Homo sapiens: one gene and its partners. The protein of the gene in region 3 interacts with the protein of the main gene of each other region in a biochemical or structural test. Each region holds a gene or a part of one and is shown on either strand. Other genes may lie near its edges.

Region 1 (9,276 bases), on a different chromosome or scaffold from region 3:
TTATACGCAGCTTCTGAGGACTTTCCAGAAATCGTGAGGTGGGAGCCACCTGCTGTAATCAGGCACATAAATAACACATCCCAGAGTCGGGAACCAATGCAGAACACCCGGGACAGACACCAAGCTGAAGCCACAGCCCTGACACCTGCCGCCCTAGCCCTGGGCTCCGTCTCTGCCTCTGGAGCCTCCTGTCCCTGGGACTCAGCTCCCCTCCCCTCTGTGGCTGGGCTCTGCCTCCTGGGCTGCTCCTCTTCCCAGCCCTCTCTCTGGGCCCAGCCTGGACACCTGCCCGCTCCCTGGGCTCCTTCCCCTGACTGGGCCTGTCCTGGGTCTCAGCCATGGCCTTCCCTGGGCTCCCTCTCTAGGAGGTGGACTCAGGAAGGGGTGGACACAGGGCTGCTCCCGAGGGCCCCTGACTGCACGTGTGTGGTTCCTTTCCAACAGGGAGACTGGCTGCTGGCTGTCCTCTTACTGCTGGGCCTGTCCCTTCCAATCAGCGCCCAGGGCTCTGTGAGTGAGAGTGGGCGGGGCTCTGTGAGTGAGGGTGGGGTCTGCATTTAGGTTCCTCTCCTGTGAGGTTTAGCTGAGTTTTCTGGCTCCAGAGGGATGTCGTGTGACCTTTCCCGGCTACAGGTCCGCTACACAAGGAAAGACATCTACACATTTGCTAGTGTTTATGGAAACACTTGCAATTCATGATACAATCACACAGGGAAACATATACAGAAAGATTTAGTATTTCATTTTATTCCTCTACCTACAAAACCGATTCAAATTGTCGCTGGATTAGTAGGTTTGAAACTTTTCTGTGTATTGAGCACAATCTTAGTACTTTATTCTTGAAATATAAATAAATTTTTGATTCAAAGTAATGCACTCTAATTTTTAAAAGAATCTACTTGGTCAGGAGTGCATTGCTTTGCTGGTGTCTGTGATCAGCTGGAGATGGTGGTGAACAGCCTGTTTGCATTTCTTGGAAGAAGATCTTTTATTCTGAGGCTCAACCCAGGTCTCTGCCTTCCTTAGAGACTGAGGCCCATCCTTCAGTTTTCCTGATTCTGGAAGAGCAGGGAGGTTGAATGGAGCAAAGGGTGAGCGAGTGGAAAGTAGGCATATGGTGGAGGCCTGGGGACAGTGACAATGATCGGAGAGGAGGGAGGGATGTGGGAGGTGGGAGAGAAAGGGAGGCTGTGAGAAGGAAAGGGAGGGACAGAGACAGGTGCCCTGGGGGAGCAGGGAACCCAGAGGAGGCTCTGAGCAGAGGGGAAGGCACGGCGCAGGGGAGAGGGGAGGAGGGGGAGGCCGATGGGGCACTGGGCAGAGGGAAGAAGCCCTCACCTGGAGAATGGCCCGCAGCCTCCCACTCAGGTCTTGGCTGTGCTCATCTAGTCCATCCCAGGGCTGGAAGGGACATCCCTGGTGGTCCACAAAGGTGTCCCAGCAGTGCTTAAATTCTGAAAAGGGACAGGGGAGATAAGTCACACTCCCGCTGTGGGATCGTGGTGGCACCAAAGGCCCATGACTCTCAAGACAGACTTCCCACATCCTGGTTTCAGTCCCTCCTTTCCCTCTCCCTCCCCTAGGGACTTAGCTCCTTCATCAGGCACTTCTTTCCTATTGGAATCTGGGCCAGCCCAGTTCTCATTTTTTCTGGAAGCCCCAAGTTCTGCTTCCACTTCCAGCCACCCTCCCCGCCCTCCCCAGGTCCACATCTCCTGGCCTGGCCTCTCTCTTCCCGTCGACCCCAAAGTCAGGTCCAGAGTGCAGCCATCGCCTCTGCAGGCAGAGGATCAAGGCCTTTCCCACAGGGATGCCGACCCTCCCCACTTTCTAGTAACTTCCCGGGGCCCTCTCCTGCCCTGGCTGACCCCATCCTACTCCAGGCTTCCATTCTCACCACTGTATGTCATTATTGAAATTTTGGCCCCAGCCTCGGCCAGGGTGCGCAGCCCCTCCTGACATCTTCCTTGATCATCATAGATGCGGGCAGTGAAGATGCACAGGCTCACGTGTTTGTTTTTTGAAATGAATTTAGCCATTTCCTGGGCACAGCTGAAGCAGGGGCTCCAGGAGGTGAAGCAGGTAACCCTGTAGTCCTGGTCCAGGTCCAGCTTCCAAAAGGGAATCACGTCCAGGAAGCACAGCTCTGCATGGCGGCCTTCAAGGAAACCGTGTTTATGTGGAGCCTAGAAAAGAAAGCAAGCCATGAGGTAATCTTTTTTTTTTTTGAGACAGAGTTTCACTCTTGTTGCCCAGGCTGGAGTGTACAAGTAGCTAGGATTACAGGCATGCACCACCACACCAGGCTAATTTTGTATTTCTAGTAGAAAAGGGGTTTCTCCATGTGGTTCAGGCTGGTCTCAAACTCCCAACCTCAGGTGATCTGCCCTCCTCAGCCTCCCAAAGTGCTGGGATTACAGGCATGAGCCACAGCGCCCGGCCGAGGGAATTTTTAGTGAGTCAGGAGGGACAGCCTGGATCAGGGTGGGTGCGGGGCAGCCTCCAGCACAAAATTAGACGGGGGCACCAAACCCCAGTTATCAAGATGACTTTTCTTTTCTTTTCCTTTCTTTTCTTTGAGACAGAGTCTGGTTCTGTCACTCAGGCTGGAGTGCAGTGGCGCCATCTTGGCTCACTGCAACCTCCACCTCCCGGGTTCAAGCGATTCTGGTGTCTCAGCCTCCCCAGTAACTGGGACTGCAGGCATGCACCACCACGCCTGGCTAATCTTTGTATTTTCAGTAGAGACGGGGTTTCACCATATTGGCCAGGCTTGTCTTGAACTCCTGACCTCAAGTGATCTGCCCGCCTCAGCCTCCCAAAGTGCTGAGACTACAGGCATGAGCCACCACACCTGACCGGATTTTTACAATAATCTATTAAATAATTTAATTTTCCATTACGATGAGATTTCTCTGATACTGAGTATTTGGAGCATCCTCTCATTCTGCACATGAGGTCAGTGCCTTCAGGACCCTCACTCCGCCCCAGGCCTGCAGGGAGGGGCTGTAGAGCTGGGGGAGGGAGGACAGATGCCACTGAGCTGCGTGTGCTTCCCTCATGGGGAGGCTGACCTGTCTACCCGTCAATTCCCCTTGCCCCACCCCTTCTGTGACCTATAATTCTAGAAGCTTCCACATTGTGCTTTACCCTGTATTAAGCCCACGAGTGACATAGACTGAGGCCAGAGGGCTCCCTTTGCAGGGAGAAGTGGGGATGAGGGGCCCCCAGCAGGACTAACCCCACATTGGGAAGGGCCCCAGTCATGGGGTGATTGTCCTTGTTGAGCCCAAGGAATGATGGTGTTTTGTCCAAATTTCGACTGGGAACTAGTCAAGCCCAGGAGTCCAGTGCAGAGAGGACTCGGGGTAGAATGGATGACACGATTTGTGCTGAGAAGGGGCTGTGGGTCATTCCTGGGGGAGTCCCATCCCACTGGTTAGACAGTGATGGGGACCGGTGCCTTTGAAAGTAGCTTCCAAGCAGTGTGTGTGGGCCCAGCAGGGCCCATATTAAGCTCATAGAGCCCAGAGGAACCCCGTTTCCAGCACCAGAGCCAAGCAGAATTTGGCCTCTCCAGCCAGGGGCTGTGCTGGGCAAGGGCGAGGGAAGAACGTCCCTCGGGCTCAGGGCCCCTCGGCCTGGCCTGGCCCAGCTCTTCTTCAAATGCTGGCCATCCCTGCATCCTGACTTGGGGCCTGTTCTGGCCTTGCTGTGGGCTCCATCCTGGTCAGGACAGAATCCCTGGTCGGCCTCTCCTGCCTCAGTCTCTTTTCCCGCAGGATGAAGCCCAGGAGCAGGCACTGGGGAATCCTGGCCTTGTGAGGTCAGGTAGGCCCTGATCCTCAAATCCCACAGTTCTGAATCATTCCTGGTGGGAGCTGTGTCTGTGAGGGGATCCTGGGAGGGTCCTCAGGAAGCACTTTTTTTTTTTTTCTTGAGACGGAGTCTCGCTCTGTTGCCCAGGTGGAGTGCAGTGGCACGATCTTGGCTCACTGCAAGCTCTGCCTCCCAGGTTCATGCCATTCTCCTGCCTCAGTCTCCTGAATAGCTGGGACTACAGGCGCCTGCCACCACACCTGGCTAATTTTTTGTATTTTTAATAGAGATGGGGTTTCACCGTGTTAGCCAGGATGGTCTTGATCTCCTGACCTTGTGATCGCCAGCCTCGGCCTCCCAAAGTGCTGGGATTACAGGCATGAGCCACCGTGCCCGGCCGGAAGCGCTTTTTCTTTGATCCCACTTGGCCCTGGTGCAGACCCTTTTCCTCTGCCCTGACCCTCTCAGAGCACAGCAGGAGTGGGGACGGCTGAGACCTGGACCTGGGGGTGACTCTGGACTAGTGGTGTTAGCCCCTGAGACATGTGGCTGGTTAGGCGTGTGGGGCTGGAAGCCACCAATCCTGGAGAGTCACTGAAGCCGAAGTCTCCCCCAACCCCAGGGCCAAGCAGCAGCAGCTACAGGAAGCACAGGTGACAGACACTCTGCAGGACACCACAGGTACCACCCAGAACCTTCTGCCCATGGGTGTCCCTGGGTTGGGAGGGCCCTGCCTGGATGCGGGTGGCTGGGTTGGTCACCTGGTTGCATAGAAAGCCCCTGCGCTGGTTCAGCAGGACCCAGGTGTCATTGTGCATGCGCTCCACCTCATAACACAGGTAAGTCTCATGCCGTCCTCTGACCCAAGGTTCATTGTTAAAGTTGAAAGTGAATGTGGGTGGATCCATCGAGTGTCTGGAAAGTGGGGGAAAAGCCCAGAGGAGTAAGAGCCCTCCTGGTCTGTCCCACCTCCCCCTCCCTCTCCACGCTTCCTCCCTTGCACCCCACCCTCCTTCCTTCCCCCGGCTCCCCACATCCCTTAGCACCTGTCAGAAGGGGCTCCCACTCACTTGCTAGAGCCTCCAAACCTCCCCCTCTGACCCCTTCTGGGGCTCACTGGGAGATCACGGCAGCCCTGGGGCCTGTCTAAGCCTTGTCAGGGTCTCCCCAGGGTCAGCTCAGTGTGCTCAGGCCCTCTCCCTGGGGTACAGCTGGGTCTTCTTCCCTGGCCTCACCATAGACCCCAGTCCTGGCTCTGCTCGCTCTCAGTCCTTGCTGGAGGTGGACCCACTGGGGCACCCCTCCTGCCTACAGGGTTAACTCTTGCCACACCCAGCATCAGGGCAGAGACACTCCTGAGCGGGACCAGCGGGGAGAAGAGCCTGCCAGGGAGTTTTTTTGTTTTTTTTTAAATAACTCACAGGATTTCTTCTGTTGCCAAAAATACCTGTCCTTACAAAACCACAATTATAAAGGTAAAAGTGAATTATTAGCACCCAGTGCAGAGGCATTTCCAAACCAGAAACACCAGATCTTCACCCTGGAGTGGACAGAGGGGAGGATGCCACCTTTGATAGGACTCTGCAGAGCCCAGCCTGGAACTGGGAAGATTCTGGCTGGGGAAGCCACAGGCATCAGCTGAGGGGTCATGTCCGGACCCCAGAGAGGCCCAGAGAGAGGCTGAGAAGAGGAGCAGCCCGGGAGTGGGGGAGCAGGGGAGCCTGTCGGGGGAGCTAAGGAGGGGCTCAGGAGTGTTGGGTGCAGAAGGAATGGGGTGGGTGAAGCACACAGGAACATCTGGGTGGAGGGGCTGTGAGAGTCAGGTCAGGACTCCCCTGGGAAACAGACACACAGGACAGGAACCCCTGCACTCCCCACCCAGGCCCGCCCACAATGACTGCAGCTTCTTGCCGTGGCCTTCACTGTTTCTCCCCAAAATCAATGTATTGAAGCCTTAACCCCCGCTCCCTCAAAGGGTGGCTGTATTTGGAAACAGGTCCTTTCTTTCTTGTTTGTTTGTTTGAGAAGAAGTTTCGCTTTTTTGCCCAGGCTGGAGTGCAGCGGCGCAGTCTGGGCTCACCGCAACCTCCGCCTCCCGGGTTCAAGCGATTCTCCTGCCTCAGCCTTCCGAGTAGCTAGAATTATAGGCGCCCACCACCACTCCCGGCTAATTTTTGTATTTTTGGTAGAGATGGGGTTTTAACATGTTGGCCAGGCTGGTGTCGAACTCCTGACCTCAGGTGATCCACCCGCCTTGGACTCCCAAAGTGCTGGGATTACAGGCATGAGCCTCTGCACCTGGCCTGGAGACAGGTCCTTTCATCAGATGATTAACTTAAATGAGACCTTCAGTGTGGGCCCAAATTCACATGACTGGGGTCCATAAACGAGGAGGACATTTGGAGGCAGAGAGACCCCACGAGTGCAGGTGCACAGAGGAAAGGCCAGAGAGGACAGGGCCGGAAGGGACCCCCTGCCAGCCAGGAGGAGCGACTGCAGAAGACACAACCCCGCCCACCCCTCCACCTTGGACTTGCAGCCTCCAGATGTGTGAGAAAATAAATGCCTGCCCTGTGGGCACCCAGCCCGGCCATCTTCTATGGCAGCCGAAGCCTGAAGCTCTGTTTCCATGGAGGCAGCTCCTTCTCAGGGGCTCAGGTTGGCCTTTAAGGATGTTGCTCAAAGCTTCTGACTGCCGGGCTTGTGACTATTCATGCCCACTTACTACGTCCAGTTTTACGACAAATTCGGTTATGCCAGGGAGATGGAAGGGGCCAGGTTGGGGCTCCCAGGCTGTGGGGGTGGATGGAGGTTGCTCTGGAGGCAGAAGGGGCCTCTCACTCACAGGAAGGGCCCAGGAAAGCAGGTGGGAGGCAGGGAGGTGGAGGGAGCACGAGGAGTGTGGGTGAGGGAGTGTAACCACGAGGGCAGGCAGGGGGCAGGAGGGAAGGCAGGAGGGCCTGGCCAGGAGAGGACCTGGTCTGGAACAGAGGGGAGGCCTCAAGAGGATGAGCAGGAGGTGAGAGGAGCGAGGCGATGAGCCTGGAGGGAGACCCTCACCTGAGAATCTCCCCCAGCATGATGTGCAGTAATATATAATATTTAGGCAGATTATTCCAAGGCTCAAATAGCTCTCTTTGGCTGTACACGAACTTGCTCCAACAGTGCTGAAATTCTAAGAAAAAGAAGAGAGAACGCAGTCAAGCCCAGCTGGCCTCTCTTCTGTGACCTCGGGACCCTCCCCTCCCAGACATATTCTAGATACTAGTTACAGTCAGCGCCAGACCCAACCCCACAGGCTCCCCTGGGACACTTGGCCTTTGCAGGCATCAGAGCAGACCCACAGGTATGTGTGGGAAGGACCCATCACAGACACTTAAGCAGTCTCTCCCACACCCCTGAACCTCCCACTTCTCACCGTCATAATTCATGATCTTCATGGTGGCACGCGGACCGTCTCTTTTCTGACACAGGCTGCGAAGCGCCTCCTGGTAATCTGGGTCCCAGAAGTAGTAGAGGCGGGCAACAAAGATGGTCAGGGTAACCTTCGGGTCCTCGGCCAGGAACGTGGCCATATCCCTTGTACACTTTGTGCAGGGGCTCCAGGATATGTACCAGGTGACCTCATACTCCTGGTCACGATGCAGCTTCCTCCACTTGCTGAACCAGTGGAAGAATCTCATCTCTGGGTGGTACTTAAGTTCGGAATACACCTGGGAGAGGAGCAGGGTCAGGGCAAGCTCTGAGAGGGGGAGCAGGAGGAGAGCAGGGGTGGGGCAGGGGGAGGAGGGGCCAGGACAGGAGTCCAGGAGATCTTGCCATTGAAGCTCCTTTCCTCCATCCCCCTGTTCGGTTTGAGTGTTTGTCTGCTCCAAAGCTCATGTTCAGTATTAATTGCTATGGTAATGGCCTTAAGAGGTGGCACCTACAAGCAGCTATGAGGCTGTGGGAACTGCACCTTTGTGGGTGCCACTGCTGTGGTTATTCAAGGGCGACTTCAGCCCCTCTTTCTGTCTCTTGCCCTCTAGCTGGGGGGGCAGTATGTCAGACTAAACTGCTTCCTCTTGCCCCCATGTCACGGAGCAGCAGTGACTCGACATCCCAGGCCACTCTGTCTGGAGCATCCCCTGAGCTTCTGGCAACAACCTTCACCCCCACGTGACTGTGCAGCTCGCAGGCCCTGGAAAGTTGCTGGTGCATTGACAGGGGACTTCCCAGAGTCCAGAACTCGAGCCCATACATTTCTGTTCATTGTAAATGTCCCCATCTCAGTCCTGCTGTTGAAGCATCACAAGGTGCACCAAGACACGTGCTTCCCTGAGTTTGGAAGTTTTCCCAGCCCTGTTCATGGCCTCGTGTGTGAATTCTAGCATCCATTCTCCCAGGCATCCATTCACCAGACATCCTCAGCCCCTACTGTGGCCTGGCCCTCTAGGGTCTGCCTTGTTCCCTGCCTGCAGTCAGTGGGGAGCCCACTGGACCTGCACTGTCCATGTCGGGGGGGGTGACATGGCCAAGGGACTACTGAGTACTTGAAATGGGGCTCTGATTAGAGACCTGGGCACCTGAAAAATACACCACTCATTTCTTTTTTTTTTTTTGAGATGGAGTTTCGCTCTTGTTGCCCAGGCTGGAATGCAAGGATGCAATCTTGGCTCACTACAACCTCTGCCTCATGGGATCAAGCGGTTCTCCTGCCTCAGCCTCCCGAGTAGCTGGGATTACAGGTGACTGCCACCATGCCTGGCTAATTTTTTTTTTTTTTGTATTTTTAGTAGAGATGGGATTTCACCATGTTGCCCAGGCCGGTTTTGAATATCTAACTTCAGGTGATCTGCCCGCCTTGGCCTCCCAAAGTGCTGGGATTAGAGGTGCGAGCCACCCACTGTACGTGACCCACGCAGCTCATTTCAAAGACTCGGTGTGACAAGAAAAAGAAACTTCATTATCTTGTCAAGAATTTTATGTTAATTAATGTTGAAGTAATATGTTAGCCACATTGGATTAATTAAATATTAAAATTAGGCCGGCGCTGTGGCTCACACCTGTAATCCCAACACTTTGGGAGGCCGAGGCAGGTGGATCACCTGAGGTCAGAAGTTCGAGACCAGCCTGGTGAATATGGTGAAACCCCATCTGTACTAAAAATACAAAAAAAAAATCAGCTGGGCGTGGTGGTGGGCACCTGTAATCGCAGCTACTTGCGAGTCTGAGGCGACAGCATCGCTTGAACCCAGGAGGCAGAGGTTGCTGTGAGCCGAGATCGCGTCATTGCACTCCAGCCTGAGCAACAAGAGTGAAACTCTGTCTCAAAAAAAAAAAAGAAAAAAGAAAAGAAAAGAAAAACGGAAACACAAGGCCTTTTGTGCAGAGGCAAACCCCCTCCACGATCCGATCCCAGGACGGTCCAGCAGGAAGGTCAGGGCCACGGACTTGGAAAGTGTGGGAGAGAAGGAC
Region 2 (7,885 bases), on a different chromosome or scaffold from region 3:
CAACCTCTGCCTCCTGGGTTCAAGCAATTCTTCTGTCTCAGCCTCCTGAGTAGCTGGGATTACAGGTGCCCACCACCACACCCAGCTAATTTTTATTCCATTTTTAGTAGAGACGGGGTTTCACCGTGGTGACCAGGCTGGTTTCGAATTCCTGACCTCAAGTGATCCGCCCCCCTCGGCCTCCCAAAGTGCTAGGATTACAGGCATGAGCCACCACGCCCAACTTCCTCCCACATTTTTTAAGTCCGTGGCCCAGATCTTCCTCCCTAACTTTCCTGGGATCAGATTGTCGAGGGGTTTTGCCTCTTACCAAAAGGCCTTGTTTAGCGCCCAGCGCCCTCACTCTTGACTTTGTTTCCCAAAATCTTGTCATGGAGCTGTGCGTCCGGCAGTCCTCGGGAAACAGCAGCTGTGGGAAGCGGTGGGTCTGGTGTCCAGCACTGTGCCTGGGCCAGTCACTGTGGGCTGGTGGGGCCGCCCCCGCCACTGCCCTGATTCCTCGATGTCAAGGACACATCCTCACAGGGTGGTGAACCCTCGCTCCTCACCCTGCCGCCCCCACAGCAGCCACTGACCTCCCACCCACCCTGTCGTGTCCCACCCAACCCTGCGGCCCCCTCCTCCCAGGCAGGAGATTTTTTCAGAGTGTGTTTGGGGAGGGAGCCGTCTGTGTGCTGGGCAGGCCTGGCCTACAGCAGTGCTGGCCTCGGAAACACCCAGGACTCAGGATGGAAGCGCGAGTGTTCCCAGTCCCCACACGCTAAAAAGGCGACAAGAACTTGTGGAAGAAATTTTAGTGTCTGCATTAGCTCAATTATCTCACATAGGATTTCAACATATACTTAATATAAAATGCCTCATGAGAGAGTTAAAGTTTGTCTATTCTCACAATGAGATTTTGAAATGCGCTGTGTATTTTACACGTGCCAACGTTTCTAATCAGAGCCCCATTTCAAGTGCTCAGTAGCCCCTTTGGCCAACCTTCAACTCCATGGGACAATGTGGGTCCAATGACCTTCCCAGCAGAAGGCAGACAGGGGACAAGGCAGACCCCATAGGACCAGGCCACAGCAGGGGCTGAGGATGCCCGGTTAACGGATGCCTGGGGAACAGGATGCCAGAAATCACACATGACCTATGATGAGACAGGAAAAGACTCAATAAAATAAAGAAGGAAGGGGCCGAGTGCAGTGGCTCACGCCTGTAATCCCAGCACTTAGCGAGGCTGAGGCGGGCGGATCATGAGGTCAGGAGTTTGACACCAGCCTGCCTAACATGGTGAAATCCCATCACTACTAAAACTACAAAAATTAGCCAGGCGTGGGGGTGTGCCCCTGTAGTCCCAGCTACTTGGGTGGCTTAGGCAGGAAAATCGCCTGAACCCAGGAGGCAGAGGTTGCAGTGAGCCGAGATCTTGCCACTGCCCCCCAGCCTGGGTGACAGAGCAAGACTCTGTCACTCAAAAAGATAAAGAGGAACGGCCAGGTGCAGTGGTTCACGCCTGTAATCTCAGCACTTTGGGAGGCCAAGGCGGGGGATCACGAGGTCAGGAGCTTGAAACCATGCTCGCTAACTCGGTGAAACCCCATCTCTACTAAAAATACAAAAAATTAGCCAGGCGTGGTGGCGGGCGCCTGTAGTCCCAGCTACTTGGGAGGCTGAGGCAGGAGAATGGCGTGAACCCCGGAGGCGGAGCTTGCAGTGAGCGGAGATCGCGCCACTGCACTACAGCATGGGTGACAGAGCGAGACTCAGTATCAAAAAAAAAAAAAAAGAAAGAAAAAGAAAAGAAAAAATAAAGAGCAAGGAGAAGGATGGAAGAAGGGAAATTCAATGAGTAAAAAGCCCTGGGGCCTAGTATGTACCCAAAAAAATGAGAAGTAAAGAAAATAAGGCCATGCATGTGGTTTATGCTCATAGTCGCAGAGTTTTGGGAGGGTGAGGCAGGAGGATGGCTTGAGCCCAAGAGTTCGAGATCAGCCTGAGCAACATGGTGAAACCCAGTCTCTACAAAAATTACAAAAAAATTAGGCAGGCGTGGTGGCACGCACCTGCAGTCCCAGCTAATCAGGAGGCTGAGGTGGGAAGATTCCTTGAGCCTGGGAGGTCAAGGCTGCAGTCAGCCCCAGATCGCACCACTGCACCCCAGCCTGGGCAACAGGAGAGACCCTGTCTCAAAAATAAATAAGGAAACGCCCTGGGGCTCCAGGCCCGCCCTCTGCTCCCATCGCCCCACCCCTGCACTCCTCCTGCTCCTAGTCTGAGCTCCCCTGCCCTCCTCCTCCTCCTTCCCCAGGTGGATCCTGAGACCCATTGTCATGCAGAAAGGTGCTTCCTCTCTTGGTTCTGTGACGACATACTGTCTCCTAACACAAACTACGAGGTCACCTGGTACACATCTTGGAGCCCTTGCCCAGAGTGTGCAGGGGAGGTGGCCGAGTTCCTGGCCAGGCACAGCAACGTGAATCTCACCATCTTCACCGCCCGCCTCTACTACTTCTGGGATACAGATTACCAGGAGGGGCTCCGCAGCCTGAGTCAGGAAGGGGCCTCCGTGGAGATCATGGGCTACAAAGGTGAGACGTTGGGGGGCTGAGGAGAGTGGGTGCGGGAGGGACAGCATGAGGGGCAGGTGTGTCTGCAATGCCGTGGGGCGGGGCAGTGTCCCGGGAAGCCTGCAGGGATGGCGCCAGTGTCCACTGCAACTGGCAGTCAGGAGACCTGGGCTTGGAGGGGAGGGCCCAGGGCTGGGAGAGAAGCCTGCTGGGCCCTCACTGCTTTCTCCTTGTTTTTTCTCAGATTTTAAATATTGTTGGGAAAACTTTGTGTACAATGATGATGAGCCATTCAAGCCTTGGAAAGGACTAAAATACAACTTTCTATTCCTGGACAGCAAGCTGCAGGAGATTCTCGAGTGAGGGGTCTCCCCGGGCCTCATGGTCTGTCTCCTCTAGCCTCCTGCTCATGTTGTGCAGGCCTCCCCTCCATCCTGGACCAGCTGTGCTTTTGCCTGGTCATCCTGAGCCCCTCCTGGCCTCAGGGCCATTCCATAGTGCTCCCCTGCCTCACCACCTCCTCTCCGCTCTCCCAGGCTCTTCCTGCAGAGGCCTCTTTCTGCCTCCATGGCTATCCATCCACCCACCAAGACCCTGTTCCCTGAGCCTGCATGCCCCTAACCTGCCTTTTCCCATCTCCCCAGCATAACCTAATATTTTTTTTTTTTTTTTGAGACGGAATTTCGCTCTGTCACCCAGACTGGAGTGCAATGGCTTGATCTTGGCTCACTGCAAACTCTGCCTACCAGGTTCAAGCGATTCTCCTGCCTCCGCCTCCCGAGTAGCTGGAATTACAGACGCCTGCCACCACGCACAGCTAACTTTTTTTTTTTTTGTATTTTTAGTAGTGACTGGGTTTCACCATGTTGGCCAGGCTGGTCTTGAACTCCTGACCTCAGGTGATCCGCCTATCTCAGCCTCCCAAAGTGCTGGGATTACAGGCGTGAGCCACTGGCCCGGCGGCACAACCAAATCTTATTAAACTCACCCTAGGCTGGCCGCGGTGACTCATGCCTATAATCCCCCAGCAATTTGGGAGGCAGAGGTGAGAGAATCGCTTGAGCCCAGGAATTCGAGACCAGCCTGGGCCACATGACAAAGCCCCATCTCTACAAAAAAATTACAAAAAAAAAAAAAACAGGTGTGGTGGCATGCACCTGTAGTTGAAGCTACTTGGAAGGATGAAGTGGGAGGATTGCTTGAGCCGGGGAGGTGGAGGCTGCAGTGAACTGAGATCACGTCACTGAACTCCAGTCTGAGCAACAGATCGAGACCCTGCCTGAAAATAAATCAATAAATAAACTCAACCGAAATGGGTATGAAAGTTGAAATGGGTATGTAAGTTGAAAACCAGAAGTTTTGAGAAACATCCTTTGTTAACTTTCATCCTACAAATTGGGTCATTCATGTCCTACGCAGCTAAAACAGAGCCCAGGAGCCAGGGAGGAAAAGCAGTCAGGCCACACACCATTGCTCCCAAAATGGACTTCTCTGCAAGCCTGACTCCTGAAACTGTGCATTGTACCCTGAAACCAGCTTTATCCATAGCTTCTGCAATAAATGGCTGTAAGTCTTGGACTCCTTGCTATAATCGCAGCTATTCAGCAATGGAACCTCCCAGTTCCCAACCCTTCCTAGTGCCCATGGGCTTTCCCATAGGACAAGAGAACATTTCTCCTTTTCTTTTTTTTTTTCTTTGAAATGGAGTCTCGCCCTGTCACCCAGGCTGGAGTGCAATGGTGCGGTCTCGGCTCACTGCAACCTCTGCCTCCCTTGTTCAAGTGATTCTCCTGTCTCAGCCTCCCGAGTAGCTGGGATTACAGGCGTCCACCACCAAACCAGGCTAATTTTTGTATTTTTCATAAAAACGGGTTTCATCATGTTTCCCAGGCTGGTCTTATTTTTATTTTATTTTTTGAGATGGAGTCTTGCTCTGTTGCCCAGGCTGGGGTGCAGTGGTGCAATCTGGGTTCACTGCAGCCTCTGCCGCCTGAGTTCAAGCTATTTTCCTACCTAAGCCTCCCAAGTAGCTGGGATTACATGCGCGTGCCACCACGCCTAGCTAATTTTTGTGTTTTTAGTAGAGACGGGGTTTCAACATCTTGACCAGGCTGGTCTTGAACTCCTGACCTCGTGATCCACCCGTCTCGGCCTCCCAAAGTGCTGGGATTACAGGCGTGAGCCACCTGGCCAGGCTTAGGCTGGTCTTAAACTCCTGACCTCAAGTGATCCAACCTCCTTGGCCTCCCAAATTGCTGGGATTGCTGGTGTGAGCCACAGCGCCTAGCCCATTTCTCCTTTTAATAGGACCTGTTGCTGTCTCTGTTCTCCCAACATGGTGAACACCACCCGGACTGCGTGTATGTCCCAAATTACAATTCTTTCTTTGCAAATGAAATGTGAAATTTAGAGGCCCTTCTCCACACTTTAAATTTGACTTGACATTTTCTAGGCAGATATAAGTTATTAGAGAATGAGATTCTCTATAAAAATGATCCCTTCATGCTGTGGCCTCCACAGAAGATGCCCTGGGCCAGGTGCCCACATGAATAATGCGGGCCACAGGCAGGCATTTATTTTCTCACAGATATGGAGGCTACAAGTCCAAGGTGGAGGGGTCGGCGGGGTTGTTTGCTCTGAGGCCGCTCCTCCTGGATGGCAGGGATCCCTTCTGGCTGTGTCCTCTGTGGCCTTTCCTCTATGAACCTGTACTGTACCTCTGGGGTCTCTCTGCTTCCAAATATCTTTTTTTTTTTTTTCAGACAGTTTTGCTCTTGTTTTCTAGGCTGGAGTGCAATGGCACAATCTCAGCTCACTGCAACCTCTGCCTTCCGAGTTCAAGCGATTCTCGTGCCTCAGCCTCCTGAGTAGCTGGGACTACAGGCGTGTGCCACCACGCCTGGCTAATTTTGTAGTTTTAGTAGAGACGGGGTTTCTCCATGTTGCTCAGGCTGGTCTTGAACTCATGAGCTCAGGCGATCCACTCTCCTCAGCCTCCCAAAGTGCTGGGATTACAGATATAAGCCACCATACACAACTTTTTTTTTTTTTTGAGATGGAGTTTCACTCTGTTGCCCAGGCTGGAGTGCTAAATAGCAGAATCACTGCTCACTGCAACCTCTGCCTGCTGGGTTCAAGCAATTCTCCCACCTCAGCCTCCTGAGTAGCTGGGATTACAGATGCCCAGAACCAATCTCTGCTAATTTTTCTATTTTTTAGTAGAGATGGGGTTTCACTGAGGAAGGAGACCACCTCTCTCATTGTCTCCTATTTCAGAAGGAAGCAAAAAGTTAGAAAGATGCAGAAGTAAGATCAATGGCCAGACTGTTTGGCGCTGCTACCTGGGCCTGGTAGTTAAAGATCAACTCCTGACCTGACCGCTTGTTTTATCTAAAGATTCCAGACATTGTATGAGGAAGCATTGTGAAACTTTCTGGTCTGTTCTGCTAGCCCCCACCACTGATGCATGTAGCCCCCCAGTCACGTAGCCCACGCTTGCACAATCTATCACGACCCTTTCACGTGGACCCCTTAGAATTGTAAGCCCTTAAAAGGGCCAGGGACTTCTTCAGGGAGCTCCAATCTTCAGATGCAAGTCTGTCAACGCTCCCAGCTGATTAAAGCCTCTTCCTTCCTAAAACTGGTGTCTGAGAGGTTTTGTCTGCAACCGTTCCTGCTACATCACCATGTACATTCCAGGCGAGGCTGGTCTCGAATTCCTGACGCCCACCTCTGCCTCCTAAAGTGCTGGGATTAAAGGCATGAGCCATGGCACCTGGTCGACCTTCTCCTTTATGGACCCCAGACAAATTAATTTGTGCCCACACTAGAGGTCTCATTTAAATTAATCATCTTGGTCGGGCGTGGTGGCTCACGCCTGTAATCCTAGCACTTTGGGAGGCTAAGGCAGGCAGATCACTTGAGGTCAGTGTCACACGTGTCCATGTGAAGAGACCACCAACAGGTTTTGTGTGAGCAACAAGGCTGTTTATTTCACCTGGGTGCAGGTGGGCTGAACCAGAAAAAGGAGTCAGCAAAGGGTGGTGGGATTATCATTAGTTCTTACAGGTTTGGGATAAACCTATCCCAAACCTATAAGTGTACATTCTTAAAGGCATACAAAGTACATTCTTAAGTGTGGGGGAGAATATTACAAAGTACCTTCTTAAGGGCAGGGGAGACTATATGGTATCAGTTGGGGTGGGGCAGGAACAAATCACAATGGTGGAATGTCATCAGTTAAGGCTATTTTCGCTTTTTTTTGTGGATCTTCAGTTGTTTCAGGCCATCTGGATGTATACATGCAGGTCACAGGGGATATGATGGCTTAGCTTGGGCTCAGAGGCCAGACATTCCTGTCTTCTTATATGAATAAGAAAAAACAAAATAGTGGTGAAGTGTTGGGGTGGCGAAAATTTTGGGGGGTGGTATGGAGAGATAATGGGCGATGTTTCTCATGGCTGCTTCAAGCGGGATTAGGGGCAGCGTGGGAACCTGTGGTGGGAGAGATTAAGCTGAAGAAAGATTTTGGGGTAAGGTGATATTTTGGAGTTGTTAGAAGGAGCATTTGTCGTATAGAATTATTGGTGATGGCCTGGATGCGGTTTTGTATGAATTGAGAAACTAAACGGAAGACACAAGGTCTGAATAAAAGAAGGAGAAAAATAGGTTGGTTTTTTTTTTTTTTTTTTTTTTTTGAGACAGAGTCTCGCTCTGTTGCCCAGGCTGGAGTGCAGTGGCACGATCTCGGCTCACTGCAACCTCTGCCTCCCTGGTTCAGACGATTCTCCTGCCTCAGCTTCCTGAGTAGCTGGGACTACAGGTGCACGCCACCACGCCCGACTAATTTTTTTGTATTTTTAGTAGAGAAGGGGGTTTCACCATGTTAGCCAGATGGTCTCAATCTCATGACCTCGTGATCCGTCCACCTCAGCCTCCCAAAGTGCTGGGATTACAGGCATGAGCCACCACACCCAGCCAGAAAAATAGGTATTAAAGGACTAAGAATTGGGAGTACCCAGAACATCTAATTAGACAGTGTCCAAGGGGGTTCAACATAATTATTTGCTTGGTTGGTGAGTTTTTGGCCTCTATCCTTGAATTTTTTTATGTTGTCATATACCTGTCCAGATTGATTTAGGTAAAAACAACACTCTTCGTTTAAAAATATACAGAGTCCTCTTTTTTTTAGCAGTGAGTAAGTCGATGCCTCGGCAATTTTGGAGGAAAGAGAAATGCAAAGCCAGCAATTGTTCATTTAAGAAGGATTAGAAATGGCTAAGAGAGAGTTTGATAGTGTGGTGGAGATAGCTGGGGAGAGGTAGAGGGTA
Region 3 (9,276 bases):
AGGAGTGAGACAGACAGACCCTGCTCCCAAAGGGGTCACCTGAACACAACTTCCCAAGGGTGCCTCTTTCCCGAAGGAATGTGCACCTCTCATCCCTGTCACATCCTACTGTCCTTGTAGCCTGTACTTGCTGATAGGAACAAAAGCCTATGGATAATTTCTATTCCATGAGCACATGTGCCATGCGCCTTATTAATCTAACACAGGCAGATGCTGACCATACAGACTACTGGTCTGCTATGTCAATGCCACTATAAGAAGGAGGAACTAGTCCAACTGAGGCCGACCTGACTGTCTTAAACGCACATCATCAGTACAAACTGACCTCCCTACTGCTTCCTACCCTCACACTTGTCCTAGAAAGATTTTTGTATATGAAACTAAGAATAAAGGCTTTCCCCCTTTTTCTTCTATTTTAAAAAACACATTTCTTATTTTTCTTTTTCTTTTTTTTTTTGAGACAGAGTCTCACTCTGTCACCCAGGCTGGAGTGCAGTGGCGCGATCTTGGCTTACTGCAACCTCTGCATCCCAGGTTCAAGCGATTCTCTTGCCTCAGCCTCCCGAGTAGCTGGGACTACAGGTGCCTGCCAACATGCTGGCTAATTTTTGTATTTTTAGTAGAGATGGGGTTTCACCATGTTGGCCAGGCTGGTCTCGAGAACCCCCAGTGTTCAGTGATTCGCCCATCTCTGCCTCTCAAAGTGCTGGGATTATAGGCGTGAGCCACTGCGCCTGGCAAATAACACATTTCTATAAAACCTAGAGCTATCCAATGGTTCATAATCAGAATTATGATTCTGCTTTTGCGGTAGCTCACACCTGTAATACCAGCACTCTGGGAGGCCAAGGCGGATGGATCACCTGAGGTCAGGAATTTGAGACCAGCCTGGCCAACATGGTGAAACACCCGTCTCTACCAAAAAAAAAAAAAATATATATATATATATATACACACACACACACACACACACACACACACACACACACACACACATACACAAATTAGCCAGGTGTGGTGGCACATGCCAGTAGCTACTTGGGAGGCTGAAGCACGAGAACTGGTTGAACCTGTAGGGCGGAGGTTGTGAGCCGAGATTACACCACTGCACTCCAGCCTAGGTGACAGAGCGAGACTGTGTCTCAAAAAAAAAAAAAAAAATCCCCTATATGTTCAAAAAATTATTGTTAGATGCTCAAAGAATTACTGCAGTCTAATGGAGAGAAGCCAACCACAGTTTTGTTGGATGAACAATGGCCTGTTGATATTCTGCATTCCATGAGCACATGGGCTATGTGCCTTGTTATATCTGTGTCAAGGCTGCTATGAGAAGCAAAACTTGTCTGAAGTCCTCCTGGTTGTCTAGAACACACATTGTTCTAATAATACCTTATTAGATTTTATATCTGGCCTATTCTGCCTCTTCCAGACCCTGACAATGGTAAATCCTGTTTCCCAGGATTCACTCTCCAGGGATAACTTGGCTTACTGACTTCCCCAAAAATGAGGCTCTTGAATCATTTTAGGGAAGCCAAAGCAAAACCCGGAGACCCAGAGGTTGTTCAATTTTTCTCCTCCTGGGAGCCTTCACCTAATAGTGGCAACAATGCCCTCTCCTTAATTAGCTAGGTGTGCTTGCTACCATTTTAAAGAACAATACAGGCCGGGCACGGTGCCTCACGCCTGTAATCCAAGCACTTTGGGAGGCCAAGGTGGGCTAATCATGAGATCAGGAGTTCACAACCAGCATGGCCAACAAGGTGAAACCCCGTCTCTACCAAAAATACAAAAAATTAGCTGGGTATAGTGGCGGACGCCTGTAATCTCAGCTACTTGGGAGGCTGAGGCAGGAGAATCGCTTGAACCCAGGAGGCGGAGGTTGCAGTGAGCCGAGATCGCACCACTGCACTCTAGCCCAGGCGACAGAGTGAGACTCTGTCAAAAATTAGCTGGGTATGGTGGCATGTGCCTGCAGTTCCAGCTACTCAGGAGGCCGAGCAAGGATAATTGCTTGAACCTGGGAGGTGGAGGTTGCAGTGAGCCGAGATCGCACCACTGCACTCAGCCTGTCAGCCTGGGTGACAGAGTGAGACTCCATCTCAAAAAACGAAACAAAACAAAACAAAAAACCACATTCCCTACGGTTGCCCATATAGGTGGTATAAAACATACAGCAAAGAAAGAGATGGCAGTTTTTTGTTTGTTTGTTTGTTTTTGAGACGGAGTCTCACTCTGTTGCCCAGGCTGGAGTGCAGTGGTGCGATCCTGGCTCACTGCAACCTACACCTCCCTGGTTCAAGCGATTCTCCTGCCTCAGCCTCCCGAATAGCTGGGACTACAGGAGTGCGCCATTGCGCCTGGCTAATTTTGTATTTTTTTTTAGTAGAGATGGGGTTTCACCATGTTAGCCAGGATGGTCTCGATCTCCTGACCTCATGATCCGCCCACCTCGGCCTCCCAAAGTGCTGGGATTACAGGCGTGAGCCACCGCGCCCAGCCAGTTTTTTTTTTTTTGAGACAGAGTCTCGCTCTATCGCCCAGGCTGGAGTTCAGTGGCACAATCTCGGCTCACTGTGACCTCCACCTCCGGGGTTCAAGTGATTCTCGTGAGATGGCAGTGAACTCTGGGTGTCAAGGGATATGGACACCCAGGGGGCTTCTTAGGCACTAGGAATGTGGTGGGTGCTGGGATGTTTGTCATTATTCTTTAAACTCTGTGTCTTCTGCATTGTTCTAAGTGTATGATACACTTCTCTCTCTGATATATACAAAGAAAAAGAGAGCGAAAGAATGTGGCCCCACAGAAGAAATATGCCACTACCCATGGCCTATCTTCGTTTGGCACTGCAGAGTCAATGTTGCTGTCTAAGATCCTGGCATGACCACTCTGATTGAGAGGGCTCCTGGGGCCGGGAGCGGTGGCTCACACCTGTAATCCCAGCACTTTGGGAGGTCGAGGCAGGCGGATTGCCTGGGGTCAGAAGTTCGAGACCAGCCTGGCCAACATGGTGAAACCGCATCTATACTAAGAATATAAAAATTATCCAGGTGTGGTGGTGGGCGCCTGTAATAGCAGCTACTGGGGAGGCGGAGTGAGAATCGCTTGAACCCAGGAGGTAGATGTTGCATTGAGCCAAGATCACACCATTGCATTCCAGCCTGAGCGACAAGAGCAGAACTCCATCTTTGGAAAAAAAAAAAAAAAAGTACAGGCTCGGTGGCTCATGCCTATAATCCCAGCACTTTAAGAGGCCAAGGTAGGCGGATCACCTGAGGTCAAGAGTTGGACACCAGCCTGGCTAACATGGTTAGACCCCGTCTCTACTAAAAATATAAAAAAGTAGCCAGGTGTGGTGGTGAGTGCCTGTAATCCCAGCTACTCAGGAGGCTGAAGTGGGAGAACTGCTTAAACCCAGGAGGTGGAGGTTGCAGTCAGCCAAGATCACACCACTGCACTCCAGCCTGGGCGACAGACTGAGACTCTGTCTCAAAAAATAAAGAAAAGAGGGTTCCTGGAAATAGCATTTGCATAGGCCCTTACAAAGCAAAATTCTCGGTCGGGCACAGTGGCTCACTCCTGTAATCCCAGCACTTTGGGAGGCCAAGGTAGGGAGATCACCTGAGGTCAGGAGTTCGAGACCAGCCTCGAACATGGCAAACCCCCATCTCTACTAAAAATACAGAAATTAGCCAGACGTGGTGGAAGATGCCTGTAATCCCAGCTATTTGGAAGGCTGAGGCAGGAGAACTGCTTGAACCCAGGAGATGGAGGTTGCAGTGAGCCAAGACTGCGCCACTGCACTCCAGCCTGGGTGACAGAGTGAGACTCCTTCTCCCAAAAAAAAAAAAAAGAAACTGTCAGGGGCTCCTGTTGAGCATCAAAGCAGCTGCGTAGAAGACCCACTTGGACATATTTTCTACTTGAAGGGATTCTGTTTCTTCAGTTGACCTGGCCGGATGGCATACATGGGTTCTAGCTATGTAAATTATTCCTGATGGATGAAGGAGGTCTGAAAGGCTAAATCAAAACCCCCACTAGAAACTTTGTAAAACGGCAAGGGAAAACCATTATTTTACTACTTCTGGTAAAGGTATCTACAACGTAGCACAGATAAGCCCCAAGCTACTTACCTGCCTTGGCAAAAAAATGAAAGCAACACCCTGAAATCATCTTCTTGGATAACTGAGGATCATGAGGTTTATCCCAAACTTGACTTCTGACTATATGTGTTAGCAAGATAGCAGTGGGATTATAAGAGGGACCAAAAAACAGAAAATAAAAATAAAAAGCTACTTTATGCCAGTTACTGTGACTGTTAAGTGACTGAGGTTCTTCTATGTTTTGTCATTTCATGGCAGAAGTACTCACTTAAATAGTAACGGAGACCCAACCACAAGAAAGTGCCACTGGGCCTTACACACCAAGCTTGGAACTCACCGTGTTTACATTTGGAGCATTGCTGTCAGAGGGAAACAGAAGAAAACACGTTAAGGGCACACTGACCAAAGCTTCCATGTCACACATGCAAACTGCAGAGGCTTCTGCTCACCATGTGATTGCAGCCTCCATTCTTCTCAATGCAGATGTTGCACTTGGGACACTGAGGAGACAGAAGGGTGCCATTAGGCTCACACACCACCAGGTTGGTTTTAAGACAAATTACACAAAGCTCCTGGCACCTGTGCCCAGTTGCTCATGGTGTGAGCACTTCTGGGGAGGAGCACCTCACTTAAATGTGGCAGGTCGCTGAGGCTGGAACAGCAATTCAAGGAAATGAGGTCAGCACATTTAGCTTTGAAATGCTTCAAGCACCAGCTGAACCCCACTAAGTCTTCCACCATCTGCCCCTGCCATGAAGCTACTCAGATTAAGCACAAGTTGAATCAGCAGAAAGCCTGCCTTCTTGAGAGGACTGCCAAAGAAGCACAGGAGCTGCCACAATGGATTCAGTCCTGGTCAGCTTGCCTGAACTTCTGCTTCGAGAAGAGGGCAAGGAAACCACATCTAAAGCTCATCTCTCCCATTTGAGAGATGCCAGCAACCTGAGGCAGCAATGAAGACACCAGTCTGATGCTGTGATCTCCCACTGCCGTGAAGTCGACTATGTTTAATAATGTCGTTATCGTAACTGTGCTTGTGAGTGCACTGACTCGGCGAGTGACTGACAAAGGGTACAGTGGCCCCTAGAGCCCACAGGCCATACTTTCCCATGGGAGACTTCAAAATGAGTATCGTGCAGGTCTGGGCTTGCATTACAGCCTTATATGTATCAAGTGTGGCTATTAACCACCTCCCTTTCAGGGCTGTTAAAGGCTGGTAGGCGTTCAATCATAATTAGTTCTCTTCTAATTAGCTCCCCCTTTGGGTCCCCCTTTCCTGGCATTTTGGCATTTCATCATAATAAAGAAAATATGCACCCAATGCATCCTATAATAAACTGCTACGAGCTGCCAACTCTGTGTGAGGGTCCCCAAACCCCCAGTCCTCAGGAAGGGTCCTGGGGCTCTGGGTATTCTGCTCTCAGATGGCAAATCTCCAAGGCAAGGCCCTGGGCAGCACTAAGGAGGGCAAATCCATGAGAGGTAAAATACGGTCCTTACGTCTTTAGTGTGAGCACTAATGTAGTTGGCTGTTTCAGAGTCGTCTGCACACTTCGTGAGCCATTTCCGGATTGTGGCACAGTCTGTGGGTGCGTGATACATCTGACGACACTTGAAACTTAAAATTGGAAAAGAAAAACATTCAAATATTCATTAAGTCAGGGTCCCATGTTCAAAATTTTCCTTTTATCCAAGCCAACAAATCATGAATTAGAGCTTTTTTCTTTTTTTTTTTTTTTTTGAGACAGAGTCTTGCTCTGTCGCCAGGCTGGAGTGTAGTGGCGTGATCTCGGTTCACTGCAAGCTCTGCCTCCCGGGTTCATGCCATTCTCCTGACTCAACCTCCCGAGTAGTTGGGACTACAGGTGCCCGCCACCATGCCCGGCTAATTTTTTGTATTTTTAGTAGAGACGGGGTTTCACCGTGTTAGCCAGGATGGTCTCGATCTCCTGACCTCGTGATCCACCCACCTCGGCCTCCCAAAGTGCTGGGATTACAGGCGTGAGCCACCGCGCCCAGTCTAATTTTTGTATTTTTAGTAGAGATGGGGTTTCACCATGTTGGCCAGGATAGTCTTGATCTCTTGACCTCGAGATCTGCCCGCCTCAGCCTCCCAAAGTGCTGGGATTACAGGCGTGGGCCACTGTGCCCGGCCTAGAGCTTTTCAAATAGGTAAAGTTATCTCTCAAGGCTTGTGGAACCTTTACCTACCCAGAGTTATACTGAAATACTGCATGAATGTCTCTTCAACTTAAGCCTTTGTAAGACATGCTCTAACACGCACAAATAAAATATTTCTGTAGGCCGAGTGCAGTGATTCATGCTTGTAATCCTAGCACTATGGAAGGTTGAGATGGGAGGACTGCTTGAGCCCAGGAGTTTGAAACCAGCCTGGGCAATATGGTGAGATCCCATCTCTACAAAAAATGAAAAAATTAGCCAGGTGTAGTGCTATGTGTCTGTAGTCCCAGCTACTAGAGAGTCTAAGGCAGGAGGATTTGCCTGAGCTCTGGAGGTCAAGGCTGCAGTGAGCTGTGTTCGCATCACTGTACTGCAACGTGGACAACTGAGAGAGACCCTGTTTTTTAAAAAAAGGATTGCTTTAGACCAGGAGTTTGAGACCAACCAACCTAGGCAACATAGGAAGACCCTGTCTCTACAATTTTTTTTCTGAAATGGAGTTTCGCTCTTGTCACCCAGGCTGGAGTGCAATGGCATGATCTTGGCTCACTGCAGCCTCTGCCTCCCTGGTTCAAGTGATTTTCCTGCCTCAGCCTCCTGACTAGCTGAGATTACAGGCTCCTGCCACTATTCCTGGCTAATTTTTGTATCTTTAGTAGAGACATGATTTCACCATGTTGGCCAGGCTAGTCTTGGAACTCCTGACCTTAGGTGATCCACCCGCCTCAGTCTCCTAAAGTCACAGGGGTCCTAAAGCTGGGGTCACAGGTGTGAGCCACCACACTTGGCCCCTACAACAAATTTAAAAAAATTAGCTGGGCATCTGTAGTTTCAGTTACTTGGGAGGCTAAGGCAGAAGGATCACTTCATCCCAGGGGTTTGAGGCTGCAGTGAGCTATGATATGTATGTTAAATACCTTGTTTAAACATCTTGTTTACCAACTCCCAAGATGTCAAACACAGAGCTATGACTCTCAAAGGGCATGGTGAGGTGCTCTGAGAAGGACTCCTTAGCTCAGACCTAAGGCAGGATTGAGACCCACTTCCGGGAGTCTCATCGGATCTCCCAGTCAGATATGCACACAAGAATGCACAAATGCCAGAACGTGCAAAATCTGTAGGGTCATGATACATCTGATGACACTGAAACTTAAAACAGAAAAAAAAGACACTCCAATATTCGTCGGGCTAGGCTTCCATATTTTGAAATTTTCTTTTGTGGAGGCCAACAGTACTTTGTGGCTAGAAAAGGCCCTCAGGCAAATACCCAGGGAAAGAATTTCATAAAGTGGGACACAAGGATAAAGAACAATTACAAGGAGTCTTCTGAATCTGCTGTGATCCTGGGGGCTGCCGGATTTAAAATGAAAGAACCACTGCATTAGTGATTCTTAACCTTTGGTGTCAATAATGTCTTGAAATGCAGGCATGTGCGTACACACACACATCACATTTTCCATGTAGTTTCTCTGAAGCCCCACCATGAATATTCCAGGGAGGTATGATTAGGACAGATCTGGGCCTAAATTATGGCTCTACGATTTACTAGGTTTACCTTGTACCTTGATTTATTCATAGAATATAAGGGTCATGGCTAGGCGCGGTTGGCTCAATCCTGTAATCCCAGCACTTTGGGAGCCCAAGGCGGGCAGATCACGAGGTCAGGAGTTTGAGACCAGCCTGGCCAACACAGTGAAACCCTGTCTCTACTAAAAATACAAAAATTAGCTGGGCATGGTGGCACATGCCTGTAGTCCCAGCTACTCAGGAGGCTGAGGCAGGAGAATCACTTGAACCTGGAAGGCGGAGGTTGTGGTGAGCCAAGTATGTGCCACTGCACTCCAGCCTGGGCTACAGAGAAAGACTCCGTCTCAAGAAAACAACAAAAAAAGAGAGAATATAAGGGTCATATACAGTTGTGATAATGCAGGGTAAGTGATCAGGATAGTGCCTGTCACCTGGTAAGCCTTCGGTAAACTTTAGTTATTCCCATGGTATCTACTGAATGAAGTGAACCTTGAGTAGATGTAGAATATATTTATGACTTAGTTTAACAAAAATTAGCCAAGTAAGGCCAAGACAGAGAAAGATTAAAATGTTCAAGTTTATATCTTTCAAACACAGTAATATGTGATTAGCTATGCAGGCAGATACATCCCACACAATCTCTGGGCCATGAGACCTAGTAGCATAAGCCACAACACATTTTCCAAGAACCTGTGTCACTTCCTTGCCTCCAGACTGAGCATGTATTGAAGACCTAGTGGAATATGAGATGCTGGACATAAACCTACCCACTTGGAGCACAGCTGTTCTGTTGGCTCAGAGACCCTGCCTCTTCCAGTGCCGCCCTCACATGGAGCAACAGCAGTGGTGCTTTGGAGGATGGGGCATGAGCCCAGGGCTGCTCAGCACTCACACTCACTCTTACCAGAAGACCTCGTTGCACCGATTGCACTGTACTCGGCGAGCTCTAGGCTCCTGTACCCGAATAACCATGGGGCAGTCTGCACCAGGGCACAGCTGGAGCTGGTAATGACTCTGTGAACACACCAAGAGGAAACAATGAGGACATCTCTTAGTTGCTGTCTAAAAATCAGAACCCCCTGAATATTCAAACACTTTCTGTTCTCCCAGCTGATGACTTATACGAAGGGGCTATATAAATTCAGAAAGGATGTGAAGACCAAACGTAAGCCAGATATTAAAGAGGAATTTAGAACGTTTAGCTTAAACCAGGTAGCAACTCACTGGAATGATCTAAGTTTATATAGAATTGCACCAGGCATAGTGGCTCCTGCCTATAGTCCTAGCTACTCAGGAGGCTGAGGTGGGAAGACTGCTTGAGGCCTGAAATTTCAGGCTGCAGTGAGCTGATTGCACCGATGCATTCCAGCCTGGATGACAGTGAAACTCTGTCTCTGAAAAAAATAAAAAATAACAAGGCCGGGCGCGGTGGCTCATGCCTGTAATCCCAGCACTTTGGGAGGCCGA

What was found.
Region 1: of the proteins of ARIH2 (region 3) and APOBEC3G, one has a biochemical effect on the other in vitro, tested with the Homo sapiens proteins (2 studies listed by BioGRID).
Region 2: of the proteins of ARIH2 (region 3) and APOBEC3F, one has a biochemical effect on the other in vitro, tested with the Homo sapiens proteins (one study listed by BioGRID).

The regions. Positions count from the first base shown.
Region 1 is NC_000022.11:39,079,189-39,088,464, reverse strand, and holds the end of APOBEC3G (DNA dC->dU-editing enzyme APOBEC-3G), read right to left. Parts: intron 7,533-9,276; coding exon 7,238-7,532; intron 6,995-7,237; coding exon 6,880-6,994; coding exon of another isoform or gene 6,876-6,879; exon of another isoform or gene 5,290-6,875; intron 4,735-5,289; coding exon 4,581-4,734; intron 2,187-4,580; coding exon 1,898-2,186; intron 1,455-1,897; coding exon 1,339-1,454; intron 1,059-1,338; coding exon 1,044-1,058; 3' UTR 722-1,043; downstream 1-721.
Region 2 is NC_000022.11:39,049,778-39,057,662, forward strand, and holds the end of APOBEC3F (DNA dC->dU-editing enzyme APOBEC-3F), read left to right. Parts: intron 1-2,296; coding exon 2,297-2,576; intron 2,577-2,799; coding exon 2,800-2,918; 3' UTR 2,919-6,195; downstream 6,196-7,885.
Region 3 is NC_000003.12:48,970,142-48,979,417, reverse strand, and holds part of ARIH2 (E3 ubiquitin-protein ligase ARIH2), read right to left. Parts: intron 8,824-9,276; coding exon 8,714-8,823; exon of another isoform or gene 8,577-8,713; intron 5,720-8,576; coding exon 5,602-5,719; intron 4,754-5,601; exon of another isoform or gene 4,602-4,753; coding exon 4,551-4,601; intron 4,461-4,550; coding exon 4,439-4,460; coding exon of another isoform or gene 4,370-4,438; intron 1-4,369.